3 linked regions of the Homo sapiens genome follow. The protein of the gene in region 2 interacts with the protein of the main gene of each other region in a pairwise test. Each region holds a gene or a part of one and is shown on either strand. Other genes may lie near its edges.

Region 1 (7,029 bases), about 39 Mb from region 2:
CCAGATGGAATTAAGAGAACTAAGCTTTTATCATCTGCTGGATATAATGTGATTTTGTAACCATTATTGGATTGGTGTTGGTTTAGACAGTTTATTTTCAGCTGACTATATAGTTAATTCCGGGACTCTTATAAAGTTTTTTTTAAAAAGAGAAAAAGAGAAGATCAAAAGCACTGGAACTCAACGAGTAAATAACCCATGGTAACAGAGAGATATAATGCAGTGATGTCAGAGGTGTACAAGAAGTGTGAATCATTTAACATGTGAAGCCAGGGTCTTTAGTCCACTTGGGGAGAGCAAAGAGGTGAGTGGGCTTCTCCATCTTTTTCCTTCTGCCTGCCCTGCTACCCCCAGCCATATGCTTAGGAGTGGGGTTCCCATTTACACTGCCCTGCTTGTCGCTCCTGGCTCAGCTGACCCTGCTTGACATGTCCACTTCAGTAATTGAACTGAAACGCTGATTGATGAACTTAATTCTTAGTGTTCATCTTTTAGCCCTGTCATTTACCCCAGTATCACATTTATTTTAAAACAATAACTATTTTGGATTAAGTTAATTGTGTGAGTGAGAGATTATGAATATGTAACTTTGCAGGTATTTTGTTGAAGTTTTAGTCATATTGGAATTTTTAAGATAGAAATGATGGTAGGTGTAGAGCTACTAATATCCTTTTTAAGAAGCTAGGAAAAATCTAGCCATGCAGAATGCCACAGTGGTAGAAACAGTGTCCAGTAAACATATTAAATGGTCTTAAGGATTCTTGTCTTTTAAAGTTTTATTTAATTTTTTTTATAGAGACAAGGTCTTCTTATAGCTCATAACTCATTGCAGCCTCCAGCTCCTGGACTCAGGCCATCCTCCTGCCTCAGCCTTCTGAGTAGCTGGGAAGGGATCCTTGTCTTTAAAACTAGGGGTATGGAGGGAAGGGTGGGTATAATATAATATGATTTTTCCGTTTAATATTTTCATATATTCTTGGTGATTCATTTTAGTTAGGCATTTATTTATTATTGTTTATTCTAATTTTGTATTATAATAGAATATAATTGTCTTCTTTTCTTCCTTTTTTTTTTTTTTAGAGACAGGGTCTCACTATGTTGCTCAGCCTGCCCTCAAACTCCTGGGCTCAAGGGATCTTCCCCTCTTGGCCTGCCAAAGTGGTGGGATTACAGGCATGAGCCATCATGCCTGGCCTTGTCTTGTTTTTATTTTATATATATAATATATATAAAAAATAATATATAAATATATAATTTATATTTATATTATATATTAATATATTAATGTAATTAATATTATATTATATTAATATATAATATATAATATAATATTATATATTATATATAATATTATATATAATATTAATACTGTATTATATATAATATAATATTAATTATATTATATTAATATAATTAATTATATTAATATAATAATAATAAATAATATTAATATAATTAATATATTTATATTAAAATATAAAAATATAATATATATAATATATATATATTTTTTTGTCTCACTCTGTCGCCCAGGCTGGAGTGCAGTGGCGTGATCTTGGCTCACTGCAAGGTCTGCCTTCCAGGCTCACGCCATTCTCCTGCCTCAGCCTCCAGCATAGCTGGGACTACAGGCGCCCGCCACCATGCCCGCCTAATTTTTTGTATTTTTAGTAGAGACGAGGTTTTACCGTGTTAGCCAGGAGGTCTCCATCTCCTGACCTGGTGATCCGCCTGCCTCGGCCTCCCAAAGTGCTGGGATTACAGGAGTGAGCCACCACGCCTGGCCTTAATTATATTTTTATGTAACTTTTTGATACTACTCAAGTATTTTTTCCTCTACGGTACTCACTATGCTGAAAGATTTTTCTTTCACATGTTTTCTAAACTATGTAATATAAGTGTCATTGGCTATTTTTGTCCACCTGATGGAGGTAAGAAATGATCAAAGTACAGTTTAACAGCAGTATTAGCAAGAGTTGAGCCTTGCTGAATATGTAAGTTTCAACGGATTTGCTTTGCAACTACATGCAGTAGATGTTTTAAGAGGGTAGGTAGGATATTTAAATTTAACCTTTTTGTGCCACTGTGTGAGAGTGGGCTTCTGAAAATGGAGGGGGGAAGCATCTCTCCTTGGTTAGTAGGCATTCAAGTGGAAGATATGTTATAAAAACCTAGTTGTATCTTATAGGATGCTAAAAGCAAGGTGACTGAACTTCTAACAGGGCATTCTACATTGAGTATGTGCTTTTCTCTATAATTAGGCTAAAAAAAGGTTGGTAAGTAATATGAACTTAAAATCAAGATTAACCCCCAATTTACAAACCCATGATAAAAAGTGTTGTTGATTACTTGGATCCTATCTTTTCTGCAGTTTATGTTTCTAGTGACTTACTCAATAGTTTTTTCTTACTCTTTCCCTGGACAGAATATGTAATATAAGAAACATAAGTCCTTTGAGTTGAGGGAGATCAGATAGATTTAATAAAAGTCATTTAGACTTTATTGCATATTCTGGAAGTCCAAAGAAGAATGACTCTGGTTGCATAGCACTTCTAATAAAGCCACAAAATCATTACCTGACTCAGTGCCTGTTCTTGTTATCATATTTTTACTTTATGTTTTGGTATTTCATTTATTTATTACGTTTCAGCTGTGAGAGTACCTTCTACAAAACATTTTAAACTTTTTTCTATTTTCATTAAGTTGCAGTCCCACTCCACCCAGTCCAGCCTCCTAATTCTAGCCTTTATACAGCTAAGATTGAGGCAATCAGTTATAAGGACGCCTGCTCATAATTACCTTCTCAGAAGGTAATTATATTAATACTGAATTTATTTAGTGGTATGCTGTCATCAAAAAAATTCATTAAAAATAAAATCAATGAAGGCCGGGCGCAGTGGCTCACGCTTGTAATCCCTCCACTTTGGGAGGCCGAGGTGGGTGGATCACCTGAGGTCAAGAGTTCTAGACCAGCCTGGCCAACATGATGAAACCCCATCTCTACTGAAAATACAAAAAATTAGCTGGGCGTGGTGGCACACACCTGTAATCCCAGCTACTCAGGAGGCTGAGGCAGGAGAATCGCTTGAGCCCGGGAGGTGGAGGTTGCAGTGAACCAAGATCGTGCCACTGCCCTCCAGCCTGGGCAACAAGAGCAAAACTCTGTCTCCAAAAAAAAAAAAGAAACTAAACACATTTAATAAATTTCAAGTGCATAAATACATTACAAAACAACATTCATAAAAATAAACATTCATTAAAACAAAAAATAATTTTATTACAAAATATTACATATAAATTCTAATATAAATTAACAAGTAACAATAAAGTATTTAAAAATAGTGAAACCATTCACAAAAATACGTAATGAAAATTAAAATACTTTAATGTTATCTTTCGAAATCAGGTTTATCTGTGGTGTCATTGTTTAAGTGCGTGCGTGTGTGTGTGTGTGTATATATATATATATATATATATATATATATTTTTTTTTTTTTTTTTTTTTTTTTTTTTTTTTTGAGACAGAGTCTCACTGTCACCCAGGCTGGAGTGCAGTGGTGAGATCTTGGTTCACTTCAACCTCTGTCTCCGGGGTTCATGCAATTCTCATGCCTCAGCCTCCAGAGTGGCTGAGACTACAGGTGCATGCCACCACGCCCAGCTGATTTTTGTATTTTTAGTAGAGATGGGGTTTTGCCACGTTGGCCAGGCTGGTCTCAAGCTCCCAACCTCGAGTGATCCACCTACCACGCCTCCCAAGTTGCTAGGATTACAGGCATGAGCCACCATGCCCGGCCTAAGTGCATATATATTTTTGGGCACATTTTTACAACTTTTAAAAAAAGCTTTTTTTTTTTTTTGAGACGGAGTCTTGCTCTGTCGCCCAGGCTGGAGTGCAGTGGCGTGATCTCGGCTCACTGCAAGCTCTGCCTCCCGGGTTCACGCCATTCTCCTGCGTCAGCCTCCCAAGTAGCTGGGACTACAGGTGCCCGCCACACGCCCAGCTAATTTTTTGTATTTTTAGTAGAGATGGGGTTTCACCATGTTAGCCAGGATGGTCTCAATCTCCTGACCTCGTGATCCGCCCGCCTGGGCCTCCCAAAGTGCTGGGATTACAGGCATGAGCCACCACACCCGGCCCCTAAAAAAAGCTTTTTTGACTTAGTAGTGCCCAGGAGACAGTTCTAAGCAAATTGTAAGCATTTTCTTCTGACTCCTTTGTCTTCAGATAATCTCACCTCTTGTTTGATAACTTATTGAGCAACTTTGTTTCTGTTTTTTTGCAGGGACATCAGTTTTTTTCTTGGTAGCAAGCTGTAGATTTTGTTTCAAGGAAAGCATCTTCATCTTCTCTAGTTTCATCATGTATAGATGGAGATTCCGATGCAGGTATCTGTATCAATTTCAATACAGTCACATTTGTGTTTATTTGAACTCTAGAACTAGAAAAGGAATTACTTTTTTCTTTGATTTTCTTTTTCTTCCTTCTCTTGAGGATCATGAAAGTATAAAAGAATACTTTCTAAATGAGGGTGCCTTTTTCTTTTTCTTTTTTTTTTTTTTACAATTTTTACATTTGGAATTAAAATTTTAACTAGAAAAGAGTTTTTATTAAGCAAGTTTTTTTAAAAAAATCTTAAGTTGTTAATCCTGCTCTCAAGATGTAAGTAAGGTGTGTTTCAGACATTATTAAAATACTGAAATAGTGGTATTTGTACCAAAACACTAGTATCTCATTACTTACCATGATATATAACACTGTATAACTGAATAGTGGAATACCAAAATTGAAATTGCACACTGCATCTAATCCTGTATGCATCCAAGTATATTCTTCTGTGCCTGTACTGTCTGCCTTTTTCATGTTTTGGACAAAACTGTCATCCTTTGTGTACCTCCTCTCTGTGTCCACGTTCCTATTCTCCTCCCTCAGTGCCTTTATTCTCTCCCTTCCCATTGCTTCCTTTGTATCTGCTTACACATGTTCATATGTTTCTCTTATTTTGGAAAAGAAAGAAAAAGGTCATTCATTTAATCTTAACTTGACTATTAGTTTCGTTTTCTTTCCTTCCTTCCTTCCTTCCTTCTTTCTTTCCTTTTTTTTTTTTTTTTTGACAGTGTCTTGCTCTGTTGCCCAGCCTGGAGTGCAGTGGGCACAATCTTGGCACACTGCAACCTCAGCCTTCCGAGTGGCTAGGACTACAGGTGTGCGCCACCACGCCTGGCTATTTTTTTTTTTTGTACTTTTAGTAGAGATGGGGTTTCATCATGTTTGCCAGGCAGCTCTTGAATTCCTGACCTCAGATCTGTCCACCTCGGCCTCCCAAAGTGCTGGGATGACAGGCGTGAGCCACCATGCCCAGCCATATTAGTTTCTTCAGTTTTATAAACCAAACTTCTAACTAGGGGATTTGCTGCTTTTTCACTTTACTTTAGTATGTTGTTATCTGGCTTCAGTCCTTGCCTTTTCCTTGAAATTCTTTTTTTAATTTTAAAGATAGGGTCTTGCTCTGTCGCCCTGGCTGGAGTTCAGTGGCACAATCATAGCTTACTGCAGCCTGGAACTAGTGGGCTCAAGTGATCCTCCCACCTCAGCCTCCCAAGTAGCTGGGACTACAGGTGCATGCCACCACACCTGGCTAATTTTATTTATTTTATTTTTTTTTTTTGTGGAGATGAGGTCTCACTATGTTGCCCAGGCTGGCCTCGAACTCTTGGCCTCAAGCAGTCCTCCTGCATCGGCCTCCCAAAGTGCTGGGATTATAGGCATGAGCCACCACAAATTCCATTTTTTGAAAGAATCTTGTAAGTTAGCAAATTGCTAAATCCAGGGATCTTTTTCAGTTCTCATTTGACACTGTTAATTCTCTACTGTTTAAGAATCCATCTCAGGTGTATGAACTTGGCAGAATAATGAAGCCCGTTTGACCTCAGTTTTCCTGTATTAAAACTTAAAACAGCTCCTAAGTTTTTTTGAGTATCAAATGCAACAATGTGTCTGAAAATATCTCGCATCTAGTTAGTAGCGCACCCCAACCTGACGGTCTGTGATGCTTTAGTTGCTGCCTGGCTCGAAATATCTAAGATAGTTTTTTTTCCTATTTTTTTTCCTCCCTCCACCTTCTTTGAATAAAGACATTCTCTAAGGCGCATTCTTTGAACTTTATCTCTTTGCCTTATCTGTTGGAAATCTCATCTACTTGCAGAGCTTTAGCTGATAAATTTGGGCTGCCAGCAACCAGATAGAGTACGTCCTCACTTAATGTTATTAATAGATTCTTGGAAATGGTCACTTTAAGTGAAATGACATCAATGATGTCATTTTAATTCAGTGTTGTTTCATTATAACATTGATGAGAAAAGAAAGTTGGTTTTCTTTTACATCATTTCACTTAAAGTTGCAGTTTCCAAGAGCCTATTGAGGACACGAAGGCTGTCAACCTTGAGGCTACATACCTTGAGGCTGTCCTAGGCTAAACTCTGGTGATCCATTTCTGATAACCTCTTTCAAACCTTCATTTGAAATGCTTTTTATCACCCCAAGTGGAATGTATATGAAACCAAACCCCTTGTTTTTATTCCCCTTTCCGACATACCTTTTAAGAGTACTAAATACATAATAGCGTTTTAAGAGTACTAATATTTCTGCCAACCAGAAAACCTCACCACCATCTTTGATTCCCCCCATCCCGCCTACCTTTTTTTAAAGGTCTAGTGATTTTTCTTTCCATTGTGTGCAGAATTTTTTCCTTCTCTTATTTGTCTTAACACGGGTTTCATGCAGCTGACCTCCTGATTGATCCAGTGGCTGATACTCCCCACTCTGCCCTGATAATTGGTCACAGTGCCTTGATGGTGTTTATGTGTTACACAAAAATATGTAATGACTTCCCTCTTGCCTCTGAGCTTGTCCACAAACATAAAGAATTTCAGGCCCAGTTTATCTTTCTCATCTTGCCCCAACCATTCTTCTGATGGTTTACTTCTTGTTCTCAGAACATGCCTATATTCTTTCACATTGTCAGTACA
Region 2 (7,029 bases):
GAAATGATTGTAAATTCATATTCGACAACTGAATTCTATGCCTTTTATATTAAAACAAAACCAAGAAGCAAAGACTAAAAACATTAGTAGGAAACTAGTTTAAAAGGATGAATAAGACCTAGTATCTGATAGCACAACAGGATGACTATAGTCAATAATAATGTAATTGTACATTTTGAAATAACTAAAAGAGTAATTGGATTGTTTGTAACACAAAGAATAAATGTTTGAGGAGATAGATACACCATTTTATATGATGTGATTATTACACATTGCATGTCTGTATCAAAATATCTCTTGTACCCCGTGAATATATACACCTACTAGGTACCGACAAAAATTAAAGAGTTTTTTTAAATAAAAATGTTAGTAGGTTATTTTATTCAGTAACACATATTAAGTCTCCAAATAAGCCAAGAGATGTCTATTCAGAAGAGTGAATTTGCATCCAATGTTAAGAAATAAACTCTAATTTTCTACTTCTGTCTTTGGAATTTCCAAAGTTAGTATTTTTAACAGCAACATAAACAGTAAGTAGCATTCGTTCAGGATTCTCTTCAATGCCAATAACCATTCAAAGAGATTTGTTTTGGTGAACTGAAATTTAAATTAGCAAAAATTGACAACTATACTTCAAGCTGTTTTAATTGCCCTAAGACAAATAAGTGTTAAAAAACCAATACAAATGTATTTTAATGAAAATATATAAACTCCCCATAATATAAACATGTGATGATATTCACTAAATACATCCTGTCTCTCTTCCTCCCTCTCTCTCACACACAGGCATGTACACACACCAGTAGGACTCTTACAAACAGTAGCTGAACAGCTAAGGAAAATGATAAGAAAGATTACAGCGAATTCTATAATCAATGATTGTAATCAAATCTTTGTAACTAAAAGAACAGGCTTAGGATGGACTTACTGTTAAGCCAATCAAAAATTTAGGTGCCAAACCCTAGTAGCAGATATTTCCCACAGGCTATTTTTACTTTCATAATCCCTTTTCTATGAACACATACCCTGAATTCAGAAGAGTATGGAAAACAACAAACATTAAGAAGGCGAAAATGACAAACAGCACTGTGTGTGATGAATAACAGCACTATGGCATGACAGTTCTGGAAAGTGCCAATCCTCTTCCTCACACCCAAGCTCTTAGAAATGAAGAAAACAGCTGATCAAGTAAACATGTTTGTCCTTACCCTAAGCAATGTCAAAATTTGCATATTGTGGTGGGCAGAAGAGAGTTAAATTTTTAAGCGATGAGGTGGCCATCAGTTGCTAGTTATTCGTTTCTCCTTTGATGACACACAATTTGCATTTTTACCCTAACTTTACTCTAACTTTTACCTTTGGTAAGTGCCTTAGAATAATTCATTGCTCTAACCCAAACAAAGCAAAACCAAGCAAAACAAAAGGTAAAGAAGTGGAAAACCAACATAGCAACATCGTTTGCTTCCATTTCTTATAATAACATTCCTCGCAACCTATGTAACCTGGTACAAGTCTTCTTAACTTCTGTCTAAATGCTTTCTGCTTCTGTGCAAAGCAATCGCTAAAATACTGAATATATTATATATTGATTGCATTGACATTAAAAAACAATATTGTGGGTGCGTTTGGAGATAAATCCTATCTTTCCCTGCCATCAGCACTTACCTTCTGGGAAATCACGCGGCTGTACCACATAGAGAAAGATATGCACTAGTTCAAAGAGAATGCCAATGGGTCCAGCTTTATGGGAGTCTTGGGTCTCATAATTTGTTGCAGGCAATTCATAATTCCAAGCCTTAGGAGCATCTGTGGATGAAGGCTGCCCTCCTGAAAAGGAGTTCCCGCACAGCCCCAGCAGCAACAGGGAGCCGAGTACGAGGGCCATAGCTAGCAAGATCCTCCAAACATGAGGTAGAACTTGGTGCCTCCTGCCTCAGAGCTTCTGGAAGCCTTGGGGAAGGCAAGCGTGTTCCTGGGCAGAAGAGGAGCAGGAAGCACTGGATCTGCTGAATCTTCAGTTTTCTGTCTGAGGCTGGCTTGAGGCGAGGGATGCGGAAGAATGTTCTCCAAGGGGGTCATTCACTCAAGGCACCATCCCTGGCAGGGAGAGAAACAGCAGCAGAGTCATCAATGCGTGTAAACTGCCTGCACCTGGAGCTGCCCGGAGAGGACGCTGCAAAGCTTTAGAGCAAGGCCTCCAGCCTAATCCGGATGGGTGGGTGGAAACCAAGCACACAACCTGCTCCAGAGCCACAGGGCAGGTGCTGGCATCAAAGCCATGACTCACAGAAGGTCCCTTCTCAGGAGGGCCAGACTCAGAACACAGACCCTTTATGGGTTCGGGAAATACTAAATATTGTAGAGAAAGCTTGAGATCTTGGAAACTAACATTTATTGAGCACTTACTATCTTCCAGGCACTGTTCTCCATGCTTCATAGATAGAAACAAGGTCCTCCTTGTTTAAGGCATTATTCCATTTTGCAGATGAGGAAACTGACACAGAGAGGATTCTGGTGACTTGCCCAAGGTCACAGGTGATTAACCATGTGGCCAAGAGTCAAACCCACTAGTTTGCCTTCAAAGTCCAAGATCTAACTATGACATCAAGACACTGTCCCTTCAGTGCCCTCCCTAATGTGGGGAAAAGAAAGAGAGATCAGATTGTTACTGTGTCTGTGTAGAAAGAAGTAGACATAGGAGACTCCATTTTGTTCTGTACTAAGAGAAATTCTTCAGCTTGAGATGCTGTTAATCTATAACCTTACCCCCAACCCCGTGCTCTCTGAAACATGTGCTGTGTCCACTCACGGTTAAATGGATTAAGGGCTGTGCAAGATGTGCTTTGTTAAACAGATGCTTGAAGGCAGCATGCTCGTTAAGAGTCATCACCACTCCCTAATCTCAACTACCCAGGGACACAAACATTGCGGAAGGCCGGAAGACCGCAGGGACCTCTGCCTAGGAAAGCCAGGTATTGTCCAAGGTTTCTCCCCATGTGATAGTCTGAAATATGGCCTCGTGGGAAGGGAAAGACCTGACTGTCCCCCAGCCCGACACCCGTAAAGGGTCTGTGCTGAGGAGCATTAGTATAAGAGGAAGGCATGCCTCTTGCAGTTGAGACAAGAGGAAGGCATCTGTCTCCTGCCCGTCCCTGGGCAATGGAATGTCTCGGTATAAAACCCGATTGTATGTTCCATCTACTGAGATAGGGGAAAACCGCCTTAGGGCTGGAGGTGGGACATGCGGGCAACAATGCTGCTCTGTAAGGCATTGAGATGTTTATGGGTATGCATATCTAAAGCACAGCACTTAATTCTTTACCTTGTCTATGATGCAGAAACCTTTGTTCACGTGTTTATCTGCTGACCTTCTCTCCACTATTATCCTGTGACCCTGCCACATCCCCCTCTCTGAGAAACACCCAAGAATGATCAATAAATACTAAGGGAACTCAGAGGCCAGGATGGATCCTCCGTACGCTGAACGCTGGTCCCCTGGGCCCCCTTATTTCTTTCTCTATACTTTGTCTCTGTGTCTTTTTCTTTTCCAAGTCTCTCGTTCCACCTAACGAGAAACACCCACAGGTGTGGAGGGGCAACCCACCCCTTCAATTAACCATGCGGCCAAGAGTCAAACCCACTAGTTTGCCTTCAAAGTCCAAGATCTAACTATGACATCAAGACACTGTCCCTTCAGTGCCCTCCCTCTCAGGCTCTAGTACGAGCCACTGGGGCCCCAGCAATCCAGTACATGCTTATATGCTTATTTCTTCTCCAAGTGTGTGTTGTTCTCTTTGCCGCTGGAGATATATCTTACTCTGCCTTATATTCTACTTATTTACTCACTAATCTCATTTCAAACATCCCCCTCTCCACCTCACCCCGAATCCAAAGTAGAAGGGCATGGCCTCAAGTCTAGGGACCACACCGTTTGAGGCTGGACACATGTGCAACACTGGAACCTGTCTTTCTAATAAGCTTACCAAGTAATCCTGATGGAAATCTTCACCCTAAGTCACCACCTCTACAACTAGGGGTCTCAGAGATGAAAGCCAGGGCAGAGGGAGACTCTTACCTACCCCTTGGGAGACGGAGAAAGACACAAGAATCCTAAAAGCAGCTGTGGCTCCAGCATCTGGGAAGGGAATGGGACAGAAAGTGCCTCCAAGATGGACTCTGTCCTACTCTTCTTTCAATCCCCAGACCTTAACACTGGGCATGGCACGTAGTCGGTGTTTAGTAAGTGCCTGCTGAGCAGCTTGTTTCACTCATGGCACCATCCCTGGCAGGGAAAGAAATAGCAGCAGAGTCACCAATGCATGTAACCTGCCTGCAGCAAGAAGTGCCCCAGACAGGAGGCTGCAAAGCTTTAGAGCAGGGCCTTCAGCCTAATCCAGGTAGGTGGGTGGAAACCAAACACAGCCTGCTCCAGAGCTACAGGGCAAGTGCTGGCGTAGAAGCCAAAATATGTTATTTCCTTGTGCGGTTTCATGAGACTAGGCAAATCAGCACAGAACCTGGAAGGATCCCAAGTGTACCACTCTTCCTCTCTGTATTAAGTGTCCTGGAGCAAGAGCAAGCTGCTGTCACTTTGTGAGCTAGATACATACTTACTAACTTTCAAGATAAGTACAGGGTGCTCCTGAAACACATACTGTAAGAAAGGGAAGGGGGATGATGAAGAAGGTGACATACTTTGCAAGAAGCCAGAGGACCCACTACCAATATTCCAAGTCAAAGAAAGCTTTGGACAACAGATGGGATTTCTTGAGCTATTTGAACAAAGATGTTAATTCATATCTAATCCCTCCATTGCCTCATCTTCTAAGTCCTGTCCCACTCCAATTACTCCTGCACAAAGCTACCAATACAAGGGCCCCAAATTCTTCCTTTGTCAAATCATGGGCTGCTCAGATCCCAAGTGGCTGCCAGTACTAACCTCAGGCCCACGCTTCAGGTTACGCCCACCGTCACATCCACAATAGACACCTTGACCCTGGTGTTTCCAAAGGGCTCCCTTCAAACATCTACTGCAAGCACAACACACCACATGTACACTTTATCTTGGTTTTTTTTTTTGCTAAAGGACAGGCAGAGAGCTAAGCCTCCAGCACAGCAGCTGGAAGGATTAAAGGCTCAGATGCTGAGAAGGCCCACTTTCTGGTAATTCCACCAAACCTCAGCCCAGGACAGAGAGAAACTGCCAAGGGAAGAACTATGAACAAACAGGCTCTCCAACTCCCTCAGTGACAAAGCAGGGGAAGGGAAATTCCCAGTGAAGTGAAACATAACTGCTCACCGCAGCAAAGATGGGAGACAATGACTTGAGATAGACAGCAACTGCAGTTGCACTTCCAGATTTCTTTACATCTTGCTCCAAAATGTAGGTCCCTCTGAAGTTTTAAAGTACATTTTAAGAAAGTATTAATATCTCACTAACTATGAAATACTAGAAACTGATTAAAGTCAAGTCAAAGAGGAAGAGTTTTTTATCTCGGGTTTAATAGGTTGTGCCAAAAACAGAAGCTCTGAGTATTTACCAGCTAAACCCCACTAGGTCCGAGAGCCACTGAGAGTAGCATCTGTCTCGGGATAAAATGGGGTGTTTAGTTGAAATGCAGACTATTAATGGACCTAATTTCTGGGATGAAACCCATTAATCTGCATTTTTAACAAGCTTTCCTGGGGACTGATCCTTCAAACAAAGTTTGAGAACAGTTCTGTTCCTGGAGTACTCTGATCCTGGAGTACCCGCCTAGTCAATTCATGTCACTTTCCAAGGACACTTCAGGCTTCCCAAACACATTGGAAAATAACACATGTAAGGTGAAAGCTCCCCAAATGCCCTTTTCATATTGCTTTGAATTGATCTACCCCAGCTGCTGTGCAGGTCCCTGGCTTATTTCTGTATCCCCAGAGCCTGGAACACAGTTGGTACTCAATGAAGAATTGCTACCAGCCTGGGCAACATAGAGAGGCCCTGTCTCTACAAAAAAAAAAAAAAAAAAAAAAAAAATTTAAATTAGCAAACGTAGTGGTGCACAACTGTAGTCCCAGCTACTCGGAAGTCTGAAGCAGGAGGATTACTTGAGTCCAGGAAGCTGAGCCTGTAGTGAGCCATAATCATACCACTGCACTCCAGCCTGGGCGACCTTACATGATTTTGAGCCTGGAGTCCAGAGAACTGCATTTCAATACTGGTTTAAAAGCAAATATGGCCCGGGCGTGGTGGCTCAAGCCTGTAATCCCAGCATTTTGGGAGGCCGAGGCGGGCGGATCACGAGGTCAGGAGATCGAGACCATCCTGGCTAACATGGTGAAACCCTGTCTCTACTAAAAATACAAAAAAAATTAGCCAGGTGTGGTGGTGCACACCTGTAGTCCCAGCTACTCGGGAGGCTGAGGCAGGAGAATCACTTGAACCCGGGAGGCGGAGGTTGCAGTGACCTGAGATCATGCCACTGCACTCCAGCCTGGGTGACAGAGACTCCATCTCAAAAAAAAAAATTAAAAATGAAAAAGCAAATATGGTGATCAATCACCTTCATTTCTTCTTTTCTTCTTTTGATGGAACTTCTCAGAATCTTTCTTTTTAAAGAAGAGCTTTGTAGTGGATTTTTGTCATCTGGAGTGCTTTTGGCGGGGGCATGGGGGATACCCAACATCTGAGACCACGTTTGTGAGCTGGGTGGGAGGCAGCCCTGCCTTGCATTGTGAGGTCAGCTGAGGCGCCCAAACTGTGTCCTGGTGGAGCTGAGCCATGCTGGGCCAATCAGAAGCTTTCTTCTGGGCCTGGGCCTGCGCACTCTGAAGCAGGACAGTATCTAATTCATTCCAGCAATGATGGCAGCAATGCCAGTAGCCACATCCAGGGTCCTGTTCTGGCAGCCGCAGCCACCCACCCATCAGGGGTCCTGTGGCATGTCCTAGATTCCTAAGCCTGGCTAGCCAGCCTTGCTGCCACTTACCTAAGCCACCCAGGGACCATCCTTTCAAGAAGTCCTTTTATATATATACATATACATATAT
Region 3 (6,093 bases), on a different chromosome or scaffold from region 2:
CAGTAAATTATTTTGTGACATGTCTTAGATTTTGAGGAAAAACAGAATTGCAACTTAGGTTTTATCTAATTTTATCTACTTTATGACCTTGCAGCAGCATGGCAAAAGAGACAGGATTTTACAGGACTTTACAAAGTATGTTCACAAGGAATTGGAATTGGGAGCATAGATAAGGTCCGCTGGTCACAGAAAAAGGGTCTTTTAACATTCCTTTTAGTTTTAGGGGAGGGGGAAGGAAGAGAGGGAGAGAGGACACAGGGAAGCTTACAGCAGAATTTTTGCTGTTTATAGCTTTCTTGGGGAAGGAAACACATGCACAAATCCTGGTGTTAGGAATATTTTAGGCATGTATCTTCAGTACTCTTCATCCAGGACCGAAGTAAGTCCTGATGCAGGAAATGAGTGTTTCACAGCTTTCTGAACCCCTACTCGACCCAGGAAGCCCAGCTGGACCCTCCTTTCATGAGCAGGTTGGTCAGCCCCTGCACTGCCCCTTCCAGCCTCTGTGCATCTCTTGGGGACGGGGCAAGTGCTCAGGCCTTCTGGTTTCGGGCCTCCTGCCGTGAGCAGCAGCTGGATCCAGGACCCTGGGAGGAGTTCCTGTGTCCTGCAGGTCTCAGCTCCTACTCAACGTGGGCTCTTTCCGGGAACGTCAGTGCTGAGTCCGGGACACCCTGGGCCCAAGGCCACGCTCGCGGCCTGTCGGCAATCCAGGCTGTCGGCTCAGGACAGAGGGAAGGGTTAAGCCCCCAGCAGGGCCAGGGAGGGGCAAGGTGGCACCGGCTCCCCAGCTGCTCCCAGGCCCTGCTCTGTGGTGCTGGGGACCTGGCTTTAGTTCCTCGGGGGTGGAGGGGGCACCGCGCTGCCTGCCTCCGAGCTGTCTGGAGCAGCCAGTCCTGCAGATGTGGGCAGCTCAGGGCCCGTGGGAGGGAGGGGGCTTTGTGCCCAGGGCAGCAGCTGAAGGAGCCCCGGGCCTCGCAGCCCCTCCTGGGTGACCAGGTGCTGCTTCGTGGCAGCTGCCCCCTCCCGTCCAGCGGGTATGGGCCCTGCTCCCCCGTGGTGGGGGCGGCGCAGGAGAGTGGAGCGACCCTCATCTAAGTTACCTCTACCCGGGTCTGAGCCCCCGGACAGACACCCCCGCCCCGACCTGGTTACAGCGCCCTTCCCCGGTTCGGTCTCCGGTGTGCGCATGTGGGGTGCCCCATGGGCGGCCGCGGTGGGAGCTGGGGTGGCCATGCGCGCCCCCGCCCCGCCGTCCACCCGCGACTCCAGGTCTGGATCTACTCGCCCTCCCCACCCTTTCCCGCCCCCAGCCCCGGAGCCGCGCTCTCACCCCAGGGGCGGCAAGGGCGATGGACGCGGAGGAAGCGCCCTCTCCCCCTCGGGGGTCTCCCGGAGGCGAGTCCCGAAGGGGGCGAACTCCGAAGTGGGTCCCGGGTGGGAGGCGCGCGGCCCCGCCCGGCGGGGAGGGGGAAGCGGCGGAGGCGGGTGCTCAGCGGCGCCCCTGGCGGCGGCCGGCGCAGGTGCAGGTCCCGGAGGAGGCTCCGCCCGCAGCCCAGACCCCCGCGGGGTGGGCGGGACGCGGACCCTGAGACCCGCAGCGCCGGACCCGGACGGGAGCCCCTCTCCTCCCCCTCGGGCACGTCCCCGGCCGAGCCTTCCCGCCCTCCTCTGGGGCTCCCACCTCCCCTTCACCCGCGGGGGACCCGATTTCCGCGTCTCCTGGGCCCCTCCCTGGGCAGGGGGTCCAGCCGGAATCCAGGAGTGACCTGCTGGAGGACTTGGTGGCCAGGGAGTCACCCTGGGAGCCCGGTCCTGTGACCCCTTAATGGATTCTCTGCGCTCCTGGGCGGGCCCCTTGGTCGCATCGGGGCAGGGGAATCGCAATAAGGAAAGTGTAATTCACGCAGAGCCGGCTGCGGGGGAGACGGGAGTTTTATTATTACTCAAATCCTTCTCCCCAAAAACGTGGGGATCCGAGTTTCGAAGGATGATATGGTGGGTAGGCGGCCAGTGAGTCAGGAGCGCTGACCGGTCCGGTTGGAGATGAAGTCTTGGGGAGTCGAAGCTGTCTTCCCAACCCTAACCCAGCTCCTCGGTGGGGGCCACAGGACCACATGAGCAAGATTGTGGATTTAGGTGGTGCCAGCTGATCCATTGAGTACAGGGTCTGTAAAGTATCTCAAACTCTGATCCTAGGTTCTACAGTAGTGCTGTGATCCCCGGGAGCAATTTAGGGGTGGCGGGGTCAGAATCTTGCATCCTCCAGCCGCGTGACTCCTAAACCATAATTTCTAATCTTGTGGCTAATTTGTTAGTCCTGCAAAGGCAGTCTGGTCCTCAGGTAGGAAGGGGGCTTGTTCAGCCTTGATCTATAAACTGTTTCTCTCCAGATTAGTTTAGGCTAAGCCCAGGGATGAGCAAGGGCAGCTTGGAGGTTAGAAGCCAGGCGGAGTGGGTTAGGGTCAGACCTCCTTCACTGTCATCATATTCTCAGTTATGACTTTTGCAAAGGTGGTTTCAGTTCCATGCCTGCCCCTCAGAATCCTGTCTCCCTCTTGTGCCCTGCAGTTTCTTCCTTCCTAAACTGCCCGTGATTTAAAGAAGCTTCCAAAATACCTTCCACGGGAAATTCAAGCCCCACCCCACTCCGCAGTGATGTGTGGCCTTTGATAGGAGGTCACAGAGCCTTGTGAGGAGTTTGTGTAGGCAGTCCTCGATGTCTCAGAGCACGCTCCATCCACATCCACCCCTGGCTTGCCGGGACCCAGACATAGTTTGGTCTAAGTGGCCTGGGATGTGGCTGGGGCTGGAGGCGGCCTGTTGAGGGGTGGGTGGAGGGTGGGGGGGTTGGTGTGCGATTTGGGGAGGCCCAGCAGGGACTCCAAGCAAGGGCAAGGGCTAGTTCTTTTTTTTTTTTTTTAGCTGCAATGGGTAGGGAGGGGCTGATGGTTTTGGAGCTCGGTGTTTGAGATGTTAAGTCTGCTGATGCTCCTGGCCGAATAAAGGCCAAATAAAGCCCTTTCTTTCCTCAACTCGATGTCTGAGGGTTTTGTCTGTGGCTCGTCCTGCTACAATTTCTAACGTTACCAGTAATTTTAAAGCTAGCTTATTAAAGATTCTACTTAAGTCACATGAACGTGAAAAGCATTTAGGCTTATTATTTAATTTATGAGTACTCTTTAAGTTTAAGCTAAATTTGGTAACTTGTGGCCAAAAACACATAACGAAATATGTGTATGTGCACATATACACACATACACACTCAAGCAAAAGTATGGTTTTACTTCAGAACTCCAGCCATGAGATAGTAATACAAATTCATTGGTTTACACAAACAATAAAAAGAAATGGTTGGATGCAAACAGTGGATTTTATCTCTGTAGAAAAGTAACAGCAGACTTAAAGCAGGCAGAAACGAAAGCAGAAAGAGAACTTAAGAACATTACATTAATAATTGCAGGCCCACCTTTGGGCTCTGATTTTTCCTTTATGTAATTTGCAATTTGTAATTCATGATCCTTGTGCCTGAGGGCTCCCTTCTGCTACTCAGTCTACAATTCCCCGTCCCTGTGAAGGGGCACCCAGGCCTGACAGCCCCAGACTTGGCTTTGCCAACCCTCCAGGTCTCTCCTGCATGGCTAGGACCCAACGCCTAGGTCATCCAGCACTCACCCCAACCAAAGCCATGGGAATTGCTGGGACCCGGAAGGTAGGGGGTGGCACATGTGTGCCCTGTGCTCTGAAGCTGCCCCTACAGGCCCTGGAATCCTCCCCGTGTCTCAACACACTACCCTCTGGGGAGTCAGTTCTCCCCAGAGTCCCCGTTCCTGGGCCTGGAGGGCTGCTTTGGGGCAGGAAACTTTGGCCACCAGGCCTCTGACCTGCACCAGGAGACACTGGGAGGTTTAGTCCCCAAACCCGCACAGAGCAGGACTGCAGCCTGAGGAAAGAGCAAGGATTTCAGGAGAGAGGCCTGCGACAAGTGAGGTGAGGGCTTTTGGGGGATTGTCCTGGCGCCTGGAGTGTGGGGGCCTGGCAGGGGCCCTGAACCGGGACAGTGAGGTCCTGTACTTGCTGGCCTGGGGTGGACAGAACCCAAGCCTGGGTAAAATCCCCAGGGCCCCCTAAACCCAACACTTAGGAAGTCACTAGTCCTGACTTGAGTTTCTGATGAGGAAGCCTCTCTCCTTAGCCTTCAGCCTTTCCTCCCACCCTGCCATAAAGTAATTTGATCCTCAAGAAGTTAAACCACACCTCATTGGTCCCTGGCTAATTCACCAATTTACAAACAGCAGGAAATAGAAACTTAAGAGAAATACACACTTCTGAGAAACTGAAACGACAGGGGAAAGGAGGTCTCACTGAGCACCGTCCCAGCATCCGGACACCACAGCGGCCCTTCGCTCCACGCAGAAAACCACACTTCTCAAACCTTCACTCAACACTTCCTTCCCCAAAGCCAGAAGATGCACAAGGAGGAACATGAGGTGGCTGTGCTGGGGCCACCCCCCAGCACCATCCTTCCAAGGTCCACCGTGATCAACATCCACAGCGAGACCTCCGTGCCCGACCATGTCGTCTGGTCCCTGTTCAACACCCTCTTCTTGAACTGGTGCTGTCTGGGCTTCATAGCATTCGCCTACTCCGTGAAGGTGCGTATGGCCCTGGCGGAAATCCAGGGGGTGCCGGTGAGCCTGGGGCTCCACCTGCCCACATGCTGCCTGGGGTGGGGACTTGTGTGTCCCTGTGACTGTGAGTTTGTGTGCACCTCTGCCCCGTGTGTGCTCACGTCAGTAGCTTTGTCTGTGTGATCTGTGTGTGTGTGTGGCTTTGGGGAATCTGCCCAGTGCAGGTCTAGGAGGAGGCTCCAGGAGGCTGGCTGGCTGGCTCAGAGTCTGTCCCTGGCTATCCATTAGCCCAGAGCAATTCTCCCTATAGCCCAGTAAGAAATTACACCCTCACCTTCCAGACTGGCACCCAGGCTCTCCCAGAAAGTGAGAAGGGAACTCACAGGTGACTTCACCCCATGGTGGGGAGAACAGCCTGTGCTGGGGCCAAGGCAGAAGGAGGATGAGCCCCGAGGCTCCTGGAGAGTCTGAGCCCGGGTGAGGAAGGGGAGGAGGTGGTCCCTGATCTCAGGGCGGGGAGGAGACGGAGCCATAGCACGCGGCTCTCAGCTGGGGGATCCTGGTCCCCTCACCATCTCCTCTCCCCCAGTCTAGGGACAGGAAGATGGTTGGCGACGTGACCGGGGCCCAGGCCTATGCCTCCACCGCCAAGTGCCTGAACATCTGGGCCCTGATTCTGGGCATCCTCATGACCATTGGATTCATCCTGTTACTGGTATTCGGCTCTGTGACAGTCTACCATATTATGTTACAGATAATACAGGAAAAACGGGGTTACTAGTAGCCGCCCATAGCCTGCAACCTTTGCACTCCACTGTGCAATGCTGGCCCTGCACGCTGGGGCTGTTGCCCCTGCCCCCTTGGTCCTGCCCCTAGATACAGCAGTTTATACCCACACACCTGTCTACAGTGTCATTCAATAAAGTGCACGTGCTTGTGATGATGCTGTGACTTCATCTGGAGTGGGGGCCCTGCTGAGGGGTCCCGGCCTAGTCCTGAGACAGCCCAGTGCTCAGCCCCTGCACAGCCGTATCCCTCCTCTGTGAAGCTCTCAGGGGAGCAGGGATATGCTCAGAATCTGCTGGTTTCCGCCTCCTGCTGTGGGCAGCATCTGGACCAGGAACGTGGGGTGGGCATTTCTCTGACACCAAGGTAAGGACACACTGTCCAGAATACCTTTGGGCCAGGACAACCTGCCTCTGAGCTGGCTGGGCAGCTGGTCTTGCAGATGTGTGCACCTTAGGCCCTGTGGGAGGGGCAGGGGCTTTGTTCCTAGGGTAGCAGCTGAAGGAACCTCAGGGCTGCAGCCTCTCCTGGGTGATCCAGGTGTGCTGGATCCTAGCAGCTGCCTCCTCCAGTCCAGCCGGCATCTTCCCTGCTCCCCTGGGGTGGGGGCAGCCAATGGCCCGAGGGTGGGGCGCTCGCGAGGGCCTGGGAGGGCAGCTTCCGACCGGGAGCCCCG

Evidence for each region.
Region 1: the proteins of PROM1 (region 2) and TMEM165 interact in a protein complementation assay, tested with the Homo sapiens proteins (one study listed by IntAct).
Region 3: the proteins of PROM1 (region 2) and IFITM1 interact in a protein complementation assay, tested with the Homo sapiens proteins (one study listed by IntAct).

Annotation. Positions count from the first base shown.
Region 1 is NC_000004.12:55,398,950-55,405,978, forward strand, and holds part of TMEM165 (putative divalent cation/proton antiporter TMEM165 precursor), read left to right. Parts: intron 1-4,286; exon of another isoform or gene 4,287-4,371; coding exon of another isoform or gene 4,372-4,389; intron 4,390-7,029. UniProt on the Homo sapiens protein: Putative divalent cation:proton antiporter that exchanges calcium or manganese ions for protons across the Golgi membrane.
Region 2 is NC_000004.12:16,074,022-16,081,050, forward strand, and holds part of PROM1 (prominin-1 isoform 1 precursor), read right to left. Parts: intron 4,283-7,029; exon of another isoform or gene 2,407-4,282; intron 2,098-2,406; 5' UTR 1,886-2,097; coding exon 1,666-1,885; intron 1-1,665. UniProt on the Homo sapiens protein: May play a role in cell differentiation, proliferation and apoptosis. Binds cholesterol in cholesterol-containing plasma membrane microdomains and may play a role in the organization of the apical plasma membrane in epithelial cells.
Region 3 is NC_000011.10:309,702-315,794, forward strand, and holds IFITM1 (interferon-induced transmembrane protein 1), read left to right. Parts: upstream 1-4,338; 5' UTR 4,339-4,469; coding exon 4,470-4,655; intron 4,656-5,220; coding exon 5,221-5,412; 3' UTR 5,413-5,571; downstream 5,572-6,093.